Linked DNA regions of Homo sapiens: region 2 is linked to region 1. A link means that fine-mapping ties the variant in region 1 to the expression of a gene that starts in the linked region. Tissue or cell type: whole blood. Region 1 holds a variant in brackets; the other region holds the start of a gene. All regions are shown on one strand. Distances are from middle to middle. Region 1 overlaps ZNF664-RFLNA (ZNF664-RFLNA readthrough). Region 2 holds the start of DNAH10OS (dynein axonemal heavy chain 10 opposite strand).

What was found. PIP is the estimated chance that this variant, and not a neighbour inherited with it, causes the effect.
Region 2: it holds the start of DNAH10OS, and the variant in region 1 is fine-mapped to the expression of DNAH10OS in whole blood (TOPMed, PIP above 0.99).

Annotation. Positions count from the first base shown.
Region 1 is chr12:123,983,597-123,988,974 of GRCh38, reverse strand. All of the region lies in intron 2 of ZNF664-RFLNA (ZNF664-RFLNA readthrough), which reads right to left. It overlaps ZNF664 (zinc finger protein 664), which reads right to left. Exons shown (of 5, transcript NM_152437.3): 3 at 837-932. Among named protein-coding and RNA genes, the nearest start is that of ZNF664-RFLNA, 13 kb to the right of the region's middle. RefSeq lists an enhancer at 4,643-4,712 and a silencer at 4,903-4,962. The variant C/T (reference allele first, on the strand shown) is at 2,775.
Region 2 is chr12:123,932,597-123,937,974 of GRCh38, reverse strand. DNAH10OS (dynein axonemal heavy chain 10 opposite strand) reads left to right here and starts at 2,991. Exons shown (of 2, transcript NR_187476.1): 1 at 2,991-3,910. It overlaps DNAH10 (dynein axonemal heavy chain 10), which reads right to left. Exons shown (of 79, transcript NM_001372106.1): 77 at 4,464-4,644; 78 at 3,209-3,354; 79 at 2,261-2,640. The coding sequence ends at 2,494. It overlaps CCDC92 (coiled-coil domain containing 92), which reads left to right. Exons shown (of 5, transcript NM_025140.3): 5 at 145-2,349. The coding sequence ends at 917.

The DNA.
Region 1 (5,378 bases):
GCTATCAAGACAAGGGCTTTCCTTTCTCTTCCTGCCCAGCTATGCATGGAAATAACATACAATTTCATGATGTCTGTGAATCACAGAGATCTAGACTGTATGCTCAACTGGAGTATTCTGGATTTCAGCAATGACCAAATAAAGATAAACAAATACCTGTCCTATATATGTTGCCTTCTTGAGTTGAGCCAAAGAAGGGAAAAAAAAATCTTTAAAAAAGAACAAATCCAAAGAGAAAACAAAGTAAAAAAATAGTTGTGCTGGGAACACAATGACACTCAGAATCAAGTCTGCACAGATCAATGTGAAACCATAATCCTCAGGTAAGAAGATTTTCAGGAACTCATATTTAAGGAAAAAGCTATTATTCAGACGTTGGGGAAAAAAAAAACACCAGAAATTTACAAAGCAACCGAGCTTTTAAAAAGTTTTGATAGCTCGGTGAGGATAGGAACAACAGAAGAAAAAGACAAAGGGTGGCATGAGATCTAGAATCCATGTAAGGCCTCCAAGATGGCAGAAGAAAATGGGACAACTGAAACAAAGTTTTAATAACCAATGGTTCACATGGAAAGAAGAAAATGAAGATCCCAGGGAACAAAAAGAGTTGGACAAAAATGTTTCTGACATCTTTAGAGTAAGGAAGGTGGTCCAAGATCTGGGGAATCCAATGCCAGATAAAGGCGAGAGGTCAGGAAGAGCGTGCACGGAGAGCTGCTTCCTCACTGAGCCCAAAGGGCACATGCTCAGAAAAAATTCTAGAGACAGCTTTGGCTTAAAATACTCAAGGGGGATTCTCCATCTAGGACAAATGGTGAAACAAGGGGAAAACTTACCACAGTGACAGGATCAAAACCCCCAAGACATTCCAGAAGAACAGGCAGAGGCAGGGCCCACAGTGGCTGAAGGACTACAAAGGCCTTAGGATCCTGCTGGATGGGAGAAATGCAAAGAGAAAAATGGGTTTATTTATAGAGAATTTAGGATCACAAAATGTTTTCATGAACTAGCTACTATAAACGTGGGGTCCCAGCTCAGAAGATAGGACAGACCTATTTACATCTGGGATTTATATAAATATATGGGATTCAAGGCATGGAGGTCCAAAGAAGGGATGAGCAAATCTGAGAAACCACAGAAAGGAAAATCCAGGCACTCTGCACAACTTCCCTCCAAGATATAGGTATCCCATTATCACAATTAGCCTCGTGATGGGAACCAGATCCAAAATGAGTTTAAGGTTCATAGGTATAAGATAACTGACTCAGACTGGCTAAAATGCCAGGGAATAAACAATCAATAGTGTTTTTTCACGGATTTTCCAGTCTCTCAGGGTACTGAAGAAGCACAAACTGGAGTCAGACTGGGTGAGTTCATGTCCTGGCCCTACTGCATACCTGCTGTGTAACCTTCACCTAGGAGGTTAAGAATGAGTTAATGGAGATAATAAAGGCAGCTGATCTGATAAGGTAATTTAAGGATTAAATCAATTAATCCATGAGAAGTACTTAAAACACTGCCTGGCAAATTTCAAGGGCTCAACAAAGCTATCATTATCATTATTTTATTTATTCCATCTACTACCTCCCCGCCTCTGCTATATTCTATAATTGTTCAGAGAAGTTTAGGTATAGATCTCAAGATCTAGCTTTAAGTTTGGGGAACTTCACTTTCCCCTGGGAGTTATGATATATTAAGGAACTTAGGTTCACACTGCTGCCGTATCTACATGTGGATGGGACATTTACATGTTTTTCTAGCTGTTGTCAATCTGGGGACAGTGCTGGATTACAGTATGCCTCTACAGCTCCCCAGAGCTTTGGGGGAAAGGATTATGTGAAAGGCATGTGGTTAGAATGATCCATCTTGCTAATAGCTATCTGAAGTTGCTATATCATTTTCAGCAGAAATCACTAACATTAGAAATAGAGTCCTGTAGACTATGCTGAGTGGCCCTGCACTGTCAGAGACTGAATAAAACAGGAAGAAAATGGAAAAGTGAAAATGCTTTCAACACATTTAGCTATTTTAGTTTCTCTGTGGGAATAAAGGTTCAACTTAGAATGAAAGCTGTTAGCAGGATAATATTTTAAAGGGCAGGAATACATTTGGAGGAATTTCAAGTGGTCTTGATATTGGGCCAGGTTTTTTCCTCCCTTACTGAACTATACATGCCAATCATGGTGCCTGCTAGCCTACAAATCCTACTAATGGGAACTGCTTCAGCTTTAAGGGTAGGCCCAGGCAGCCATCGGCCACATGACCACTTCTGAGACCAAGTGCAGACATCTGACCCAAGAGCTTAACTCTGACATATGATGTGGCTTGGAACAACAATAAAAGCAAAACAAAATCAGATTCCCTCTCTCTCAGGAATCTAAGCAATACTGAGAGAATGAGGTTATCAGCTGTGAGAGATGAAGCTGAGAGGTTATGATCCGCAAAATGACTGCGGAGGTCATCAAATCACAGCAAACCAAACTCATGAGGAAGTAGAATCTATAAGCAAGGAGGAGCTAAAAGGTTAGAAAAGACATACAGAGGAGGGAAAAACAAGCCAGATGGCAGCAAGAGGAGAAAGACACAAAGAAATGAGTGATGCCGTGAGAGACCTCACTGTCCATGGGAAGACTGTGGCTTGTCTCTGGACAGCCTGAGTTCCTCATGGGTCTGATCCACATGCATCCTCCAATATAGCCCCTTGTACAGAAAGTGGTCTGAATGAAACTCTGTTCTTTGCAACAAAAAATCCCTAACTAAAACACTTCCTTCAA[C/T]TCCCCCTTAAGATGAAGTTTTCCCAGGAGGTGCCTCAGTGCCACAAACAAACAGATTCTGGGCAAGCCCACCCCCTCCAGCCCCCCGCCAGACATGCCTAGACATACCCAATGTCCACTTCCCAGCAGAACTGGGATGTCTTATCTCTAGGTATATAGGCACAGTCCCTAAGGCTCATGAGCATCTCGAAGACCTATGTAAATGTTTCAGATCTGAAAAAAAACATTACTGGATGCAAAACATGAAAAGAAAATTGCAAAATTAAAGTTAATAAATGTTAAATGTCTATAGCCAATCAAAGCTTAACTCATATGGTTTTGTACAAGCTAATTTTATGTGGGACATGGGTGATTTAATGTTTGATATGACATAGTAAAGGCCTCCAAAAGTTTAATGGCTTAAGGCCTTCACAGATCTTCGCACCAGTCCCACAGCAGCGGACGTGTTTGGGCCTAAGCTGGAACCTGCCATTCCACCCCTTGGATAAGTGTATGCTTAAACTGTACGCCTGGCCGCTCAAACTGGGCACTCAGTCTAAAGTGAGAGGTCAAATCCCACCTCCCAGATTTAAACACAGTTATTTTACCACTTCTGATATTAGGAATCTGTTATCTTTTCTTAACGAAATATTTTAAATAAGTGAAGCCAAATAACTTCTATTAGCCATACTATTAGTTTTACCAAGAAGTTTTTTAAAATGTCATTTATGATAGCAAATGGTCTCATAGATTTAAAGGATTTAACATTTGACGTGTGTCAGAATAGTAAATCAAAAATCAGTCACATTTACTCTCTCCTGCAAGAACTCCCTCAAATGTCATGAATAGACCTAGACATTTTCTTCCTTCTGGTCAGATTCTCAATCTGAGAAGAGTAGGAAGTGGCACAAAAGTTACATGAAACTTAGATCTTATATTCTGAGATGATGGTGTTAAAAACAAAAAAGCAAAAATAATCCTTTCTAGAGTCATTGTTGATTACAGCTCTAATTTCATATGCACAGATAAGTGACATGTGTTCTCTGGAGCCATCCCCCGACTAAGACCAATTCACTCTTCTCACTTTCACTACTGAGCTCCTCCACAGCATCTATAATACCTTCTGTGTGCACCTCCCACACACCATTCTGTACCCCCACCCCCACTACAAAACTGCTCTCAGAGTCAAATCTTGGGGCCGTTCCTCCTGCCTCACCCTGAATCCTAGTCTACGGTCTCCTCGGCTCCCAGTTCCCTGCACATTCTCACTTTTCCTCTGGCCTTGCTGATTGTGTCTGCCATCTCACATGCCTATGCCTAAATATAGGAGTCCTCCATACAGTATGTCCTGTCTCCATTTTTTAGCTCAACTACCTGCTTGGCTGGAATGATGACCATTTCCATGATGATGATGCCACAGTTTCTTAACACAGTCTTTTCTTCTTACCTGTATCTCCAACTGCCTACTAGAATTATTTCCCCATCATCCCACGATAAACTGAAAATCACTACTTTGACAAACTCAAAGTCCCTATAAAAGGCAACTTCTTCCCTCAACAGATCTCCCAGGCAAAGAACTTTGAAACCAACTCTCTCCTCCTCCCCGGCCCCCACACCCCTTTCAACTGTTTTCTTTCTGTGCTTGTTTCTTCCCTTCAGCATTTAAACACAATGCAGAAGTCTCCCCCAACCTTAAGGAAAAACAGCATTTAATCCCAGGCCTTCTCTAGCTACCCTGTCTCCCTGGCCCCACCCTCCATTTCCCCATCCAGACCTCTTAAAGACTGATTTTTCCAGATTTCTATTGCTTCACTTCCCACTCATGCCTCAATCCAACACCACACCACCGAGGTTCCTCTCTCATTGTCGGCCTTCTCTTGGCCAATCCAAGGGCACTTTTTGTTCTTTATCCCACTGGACATTACTGGCCACACTCCCTTGGCTCCTTCTGTGACCCTACGGCCTCTGTGTTCTACACTCACTGCATAAACCCAGTATTATCAGTTGGCCGGGCAAGCTCTTGTAAACACTAGTTCATTCCCATGAGTTCCATCTCCCCTCTCCTCTGCTCCTAACATCCACACCAGTTTCAACCATCTCGCCCACTGGTTCTCAACTCTGGCTGTGAAAGAAAGCTTTGCTAGGAGTCCACATTTCAACTGTTCACAAGGCCTCCAGAGGGCACTCAAACACCTGCTCAGAAACCTCGGCTCTTCACACTAAGGAGTTAGGACTTGAAATCAATGTCACAATGGGTTACTACCTCTAGTTGCCAAGCATCATGAAAATGCATGCAACCCGCTTTGTGCAGGTTCTCTGATTCTAACTGTGAGTCTGGAGGCTTACCACAAGGTCCTAGTCCTATCACAATGTAAAGTTATAGTATTAAAAGTAATTTATTGAACATCGGTTAACTGAGAAACTTGACATGTTTTCTAGCCAACACCGAGTACTTTGAATCAATGAAATATTCTTAAACCCCCATCAGGCTCAATCCTAAACATATTTGAACTACACATCCAAAAGTGATATTTTGAAAGCCAGAGGGACATACAGGATTTACTCTGCAGAAGAAAAATGGTTCCAATTATTTCTATGAACTGTTGTATTGTTAACCTAAGTGGC
Region 2 (5,378 bases), 51 kb after region 1:
CAGAGCCCCCACAGCCCTGCCTTCTGCATGGCCCCCACAGCCTAGACAGGGCCCCCACCAGACAGGTCCGCCTGCCCCATAGGCCTCACCACTCGGCCTCAGTCTAATGAGTTCTTCACCTGCTTCCTCGGCTTATTCTTGTAGGAGACGGGACTTCTAAAAGCAGTGAATTAAAGAAAAGATGTGAAGAGCTGGAAGCCCAACTGAAAGTGAAAGAGAACGAAAATGCTGAGTTGTTGAAAGAACTGGAGCAGAAAAACGCGATGATCACAGTGCTGGAGAACACCATCAAGGAGCGAGAGAAGAAGTACCTGGAGGAGCTGAAGGCCAAGAGTCACAAGCTGACCCTGCTGTCTAGCGAGCTGGAGCAGCGGGCCAGCACCATCGCCTACCTGACCTCCCAGCTGCACGCCGCCAAGAAGAAGCTCATGAGCTCCAGCGGGACCTCAGATGCCAGCCCGTCAGGGAGCCCCGTGCTGGCCAGCTACAAGCCAGCGCCCCCCAAAGACAAGCTACCCGAAACGCCTCGCCGCCGCATGAAAAAGAGCCTCTCAGCCCCCTTGCACCCGGAATTTGAAGAGGTCTACAGATTCGGGGCAGAGAGCAGGAAACTCCTTTTGCGGGAACCAGTGGATGCTATGCCCGACCCCACCCCATTTCTGCTGGCTAGGGAGTCCGCCGAGGTCCACCTCATCAAAGAGAGGCCCCTCGTCATCCCCCCCATCGCCTCCGACCGAAGCGGCGAGCAGCACAGCCCGGCCCGCGAAAAGCCGCACAAGGCCCACGTCGGGGTGGCACATCGGATCCACCACGCCACCCCGCCGCAGGCCCAGCCCGAGGTGAAGACCCTGGCGGTCGACCAGGTGAACGGAGGCAAGGTGGTGAGGAAGCACTCAGGGACGGACAGAACTGTGTGAAGCCCGCCGTGCCCCACCCCGCGCTGTCCATGCACTGTGAGCACCACTGGGAAATCTCAGCCACACCTTTTCTGTTTAATCCCATGCATGCCAAACACTTTTCACACCTACCGACCCATTCTCCTTCTGCTTCTCTTGCCCTCTTCTTCACACCAAAATATGATCGTGTCCCTGCCGCAGAATATGTATTTCCTAATTGCTGTGGCCAAACGCCTGTGTGCCGAATCGCTTGCTTCTGATCCCGCTCCGTGTAACCTAAGTGCGCTGCAGGCAAAGCCCAGGCCACGGCTGCGTCACTACTGATGTTCACGATGCCACACAGTCACACACCTAATTCATTCTCAAGTCGGAGCAACACATACCAACCTTGACCTTATCCTCAAGCTCCAGGGCAGCCTGGCCGAGCAGCCCCTGCTCCCTCCTGGAGACCCTTGTCACCTCCCGAGCTCCTCCTGGAGACCCCTGTCACCTCCTGACCAACCTTTCCCAGGGCGGCACCGATCACCGAGCAGCCGTGCGTGTATCTCAAGGAACTAAATAAGATGACGCTACTCCTCATAGCACCACAACCTGAATGTGTGTTCATATTTTTTTGTTAGTTTTATCCAAAATGTTTAAGATCCCAACAAACTTTATTTTCTAAACCTGCCTTCCTTCTGTTTTGTGTCTTTTATTAAACAAACACCTGAAGGAGGGCTAGGAGACTGCAGGAGGGAGAGCAATCACAGGTCCCAGAAGCGACTCCGGCCTCCTCCCGGCCCAGAGCTAGTCCTTAGAATGTGCTGCGCTCCTGAGCTTCTGTGGGAAGCTGCTTTTGCCTCTGATGGCCCCTGCCCACTGTGCTGCCCGTGCTAGCCCCTCTCCTCCCTCATGGAGTGAAGCCACCCCTCACCTCCAGGTGGCCAGCCAGGGCTCCAGGCCAGCCTCATGGTGCACAGAGGGAAGGGGTGCCCAGTGACCACTGGTCCTGGAGGTTCTGTGTCCTTACCTGACCCCACACAGACCCAGGCAGGCTGGGGGTAGAAGCTCATGCAGGAACTAAACACTAAGCTCAACAACTTCACAGTCGCCGTAGCAGGTCAGAGCCAAAGAAGCTAGGGCCAGAGAGTTCTGGAAGGGGGAGAAGTGGCTCCAGGTGACTGGTCACTTCTGCTCTGTGCCCGACATCATCAGCCCTTCTTGCCAAAAAGGAGCATCTGCTGAAACAGACCTGGATCATCGAAAACACACCTTTGGAAATTACATTAGGATTCTCACTTGTGCCAATGCTATGTATGCCAGGCACTTTTGCCTAATCAAGTGTTTTCTCTGAGAAGGAAAAGAAAACTCCACACATCTTAAAATACTCTCCAATATTTACTTTTTGATTATATAAATTCCTTTTAAAAAGTAGTATTAAAAACAAAACCATTCAGGTTAATTTGTATGGAAAGAGATTTAAGTGGCTGATTTCAAATGAAAAATCAGTGTCAGTCCCCCTCCTGCCTCTTGAGAGGCCCCAAGAAATGACAGCAGACCCGATCACTCTGACAACCCCAGGCTCCGAATTCATTAAGCAGTTTTCTTCACCCAAAGGTTAATCAGAATTCAGGGTGAGGCATACTCCTTGCAGCACCCAGTGAGAAATGTGCCTCGTGGTAAAGAGATCAGCTTCAAAAACCAAGCCGACTCCCATGGCGTTCCTTCTCATGGAGGTGGTGTAGACGGGGGTCCGGAAAGTATTCTGCAAGGGAAAGGCAGGTGAGATGCCCCCACGGAGAGAGGGTGCAGAGGGATAAAGGCAGAGGTGCAGTGTAAGTCTTGACAGGCAGGGGCCCCTGTGCAAGACTGCACCTGAGAACACGCACAAGGCTGGGGCTGCTCAGGGCCACCCTCCGCCAGCTTCACGGGGACCTGGCTTCACACTGACACCCTGGTTAAAAGTGGGTCCTGGCCCAGGCAGAGCAGAAGACATCTGCTGTCCACACCAGCGGGAACCACTTTATGACTCAGGCAATGTCTGCAGCATTTTGCAAGAAGGGAGGGAGTCTCCCCTTGGTTAGTCTAGACCACAGGATCACAGCTTGAGCCTGACACCTCTGGAAGGACCGGCATCCACACACACATACAGCCGCGCCTTTTCCAGGAAGCAGCTATCCGTAGCTTTTATCACGGCTCCAAGACTCTCCCCAGCCCATAAAGCTTAGGCACCCCTGTTTTAAAAAGTAGGACTGTTGGAAACCACCTCAGCCATAACTACAGTCAGAAGAGGAAGGGCCCTGGTGTCAGAGAGGAGGGGCTGGGACCTTCACCTGCAGCTTGAGGCGATGGGCTTCAATGGGGATGATCTTCAGGATCGGCAGGTCCACAACCAGCACCTTGGGTTTGCTCTTGATAAGACATCCTTTTTCTATATCCCAGTCAGCACCTTCCAGGTACAGTCCTGAGACAAAGCATCCTAGGGACACAAGGCAGAGACTGGATACAACTGGAGCATGCACAGCCTGCCACGGAGTGGCTCTATCAGGCGCACACACAGCGACACACAGGCCACTGGCTGGCCTCCTCCCCAGCGCATTGGGGACAGCCCAGGCCCTTCTCCAGCATTTCTGTCCTGCCCACCTTCCCTCTGTGGAGGAGCAGCCCAGACAGGAGACCCTGTGGCCCTGCCCCATGGCCCAGAGAAATGGGTGTGGGGCGGTGGCCTCTCCCCCAGGAATCCTCATTCCTGGGGCATCAAGGCCCACGGACTTAGACCACCCTGGGCCCCCAGGCTAGAAAGATGCATGGTCCCAGAGTCAGAATGGGCACCATGGCAACCCCAGCTACCCTGTGAGCCGAAGTGGCTGGGGAGCAGGAAGTCGAAGCCTCACAGAGAAAGTGGTCTCCGGGGAGGAGGACCCAGCAGATGTGCAAAGAGAGGAACACACTCCTGTGGCCCCAGAGAGAGTGGTGGCCCGGACACCTGCCACCTCCCCTGCCACTGAGACCTGGAGAGTCCCTGCATCTTTACCGTAAGTCCCCAGTCCTTAAGCCATCTCAAAAGAGCTTTTGTTCCTTGCAGTTAAAAGAACTCTAAGACAACATGGACCCGGGGAAACAGCAGTTTCCAGCTCTCATTTGCACAGTCAGTAACCAATGTCTAAGGGACCTGAAGTTCTGGCATAATCAAAGAGTTCCAACCAAGTTAGTCCATGCTGCTCTGTGGCTCCCATGCCCCTGGCCCCGTCAGGGGTTACAAGAAAGCCACCTGATGGTTTTTGCAAGAGCTAATTCTGACCTAGGAGCCCACTTGCCATGAGCTAGCAGAGTGAACATGGTTCAGGTCTCCCCTGCCATAGACCCCAGGTCTCAACGGAGAAAGTGGAAGAGAAACTTCCGTATCCACCCTCAGAGGTGTTAAGACATGGGCAGTGCAGAGACACAGGAAATATTTGCAGCAGGCTGGCTTTCAAACATGGCCTGGCCCATTTAGGCCCACGCTATGCCTGTCCCTTTGAGTTGGAGGTGGTTCAGGGAGAGAAATCCTAAGTGAGAGGCTGTGGATCCCTAACGAGCTGACGGTACCTTGTCCCGCCCGCTCATTCACTTCATCTGCATCCTGGAACTTGGTCACTTGTGTGAACAAGGTGGAGCGGTCCAGTGGCCAGCCGTTCTTCCGGCAGGTGGCCTGCACCAGCGCCGTGAGGTAGGACTCAGGGATGTGCAGCCCCGAGAGCCACATCACGCTGGGCTCGCTCTCGGTCACCTGGAGAGAAGAGAGGACAAGTGCTGGGAGCCTGGGGCTGCCATCCAATGCCAGGTCAAAGCTGGCCTGGAAGTTTAGTTTATGATAAAAGACATATTTCACCTAAGTGGCAAAAGATGGCGTTGGCACAACTGGCCGCCTGTCTGAGAAAAACAATCTGGACTGCCACATTCCAGGTAGATCAAAGATTTAGATATAAAAATAAATAAAACCACAAAAGTACTGGGCCACATCTCCAATGAATGCTTTCATATCGTGGAGTAGGAAATACAAAGCCCAGGATAAAAAAGAAAAGCCTTGTAGGTTTGACTACGGAAAAATGTAAAGCTTTTCTGTGGAAAAAATACCGTAAGCAAAGTCAAGACTTATGACAAGCTTGGAGAAATACCTGCAACACTGGCAGACCAAGGGCTAATTTCTTTGATTTGCAAAGAGCTCTTAAACATCAATGAGAAAGATGGAGACCTCACTAAAAATGAAATCCAGATACAAAAGGACAATTCACAGAAAAACAAACACAAAATGTCTGTAAAGCATGCAAAATACGCTCAGACTCACCATAATTAAAGACATGCAAAACAATGAGATATTATTTTCACCTATCAGGGAGACAGTGATCCAAAATGTTAAGAACGCAGCATTGCAGCGGAGTGAGGAAAGAAGCACTCTCATAGACTGTGGTTTCAGCCTTTCTAAGAACCATCCAACAAGAGCTATCAAAATTTAAAATGCAC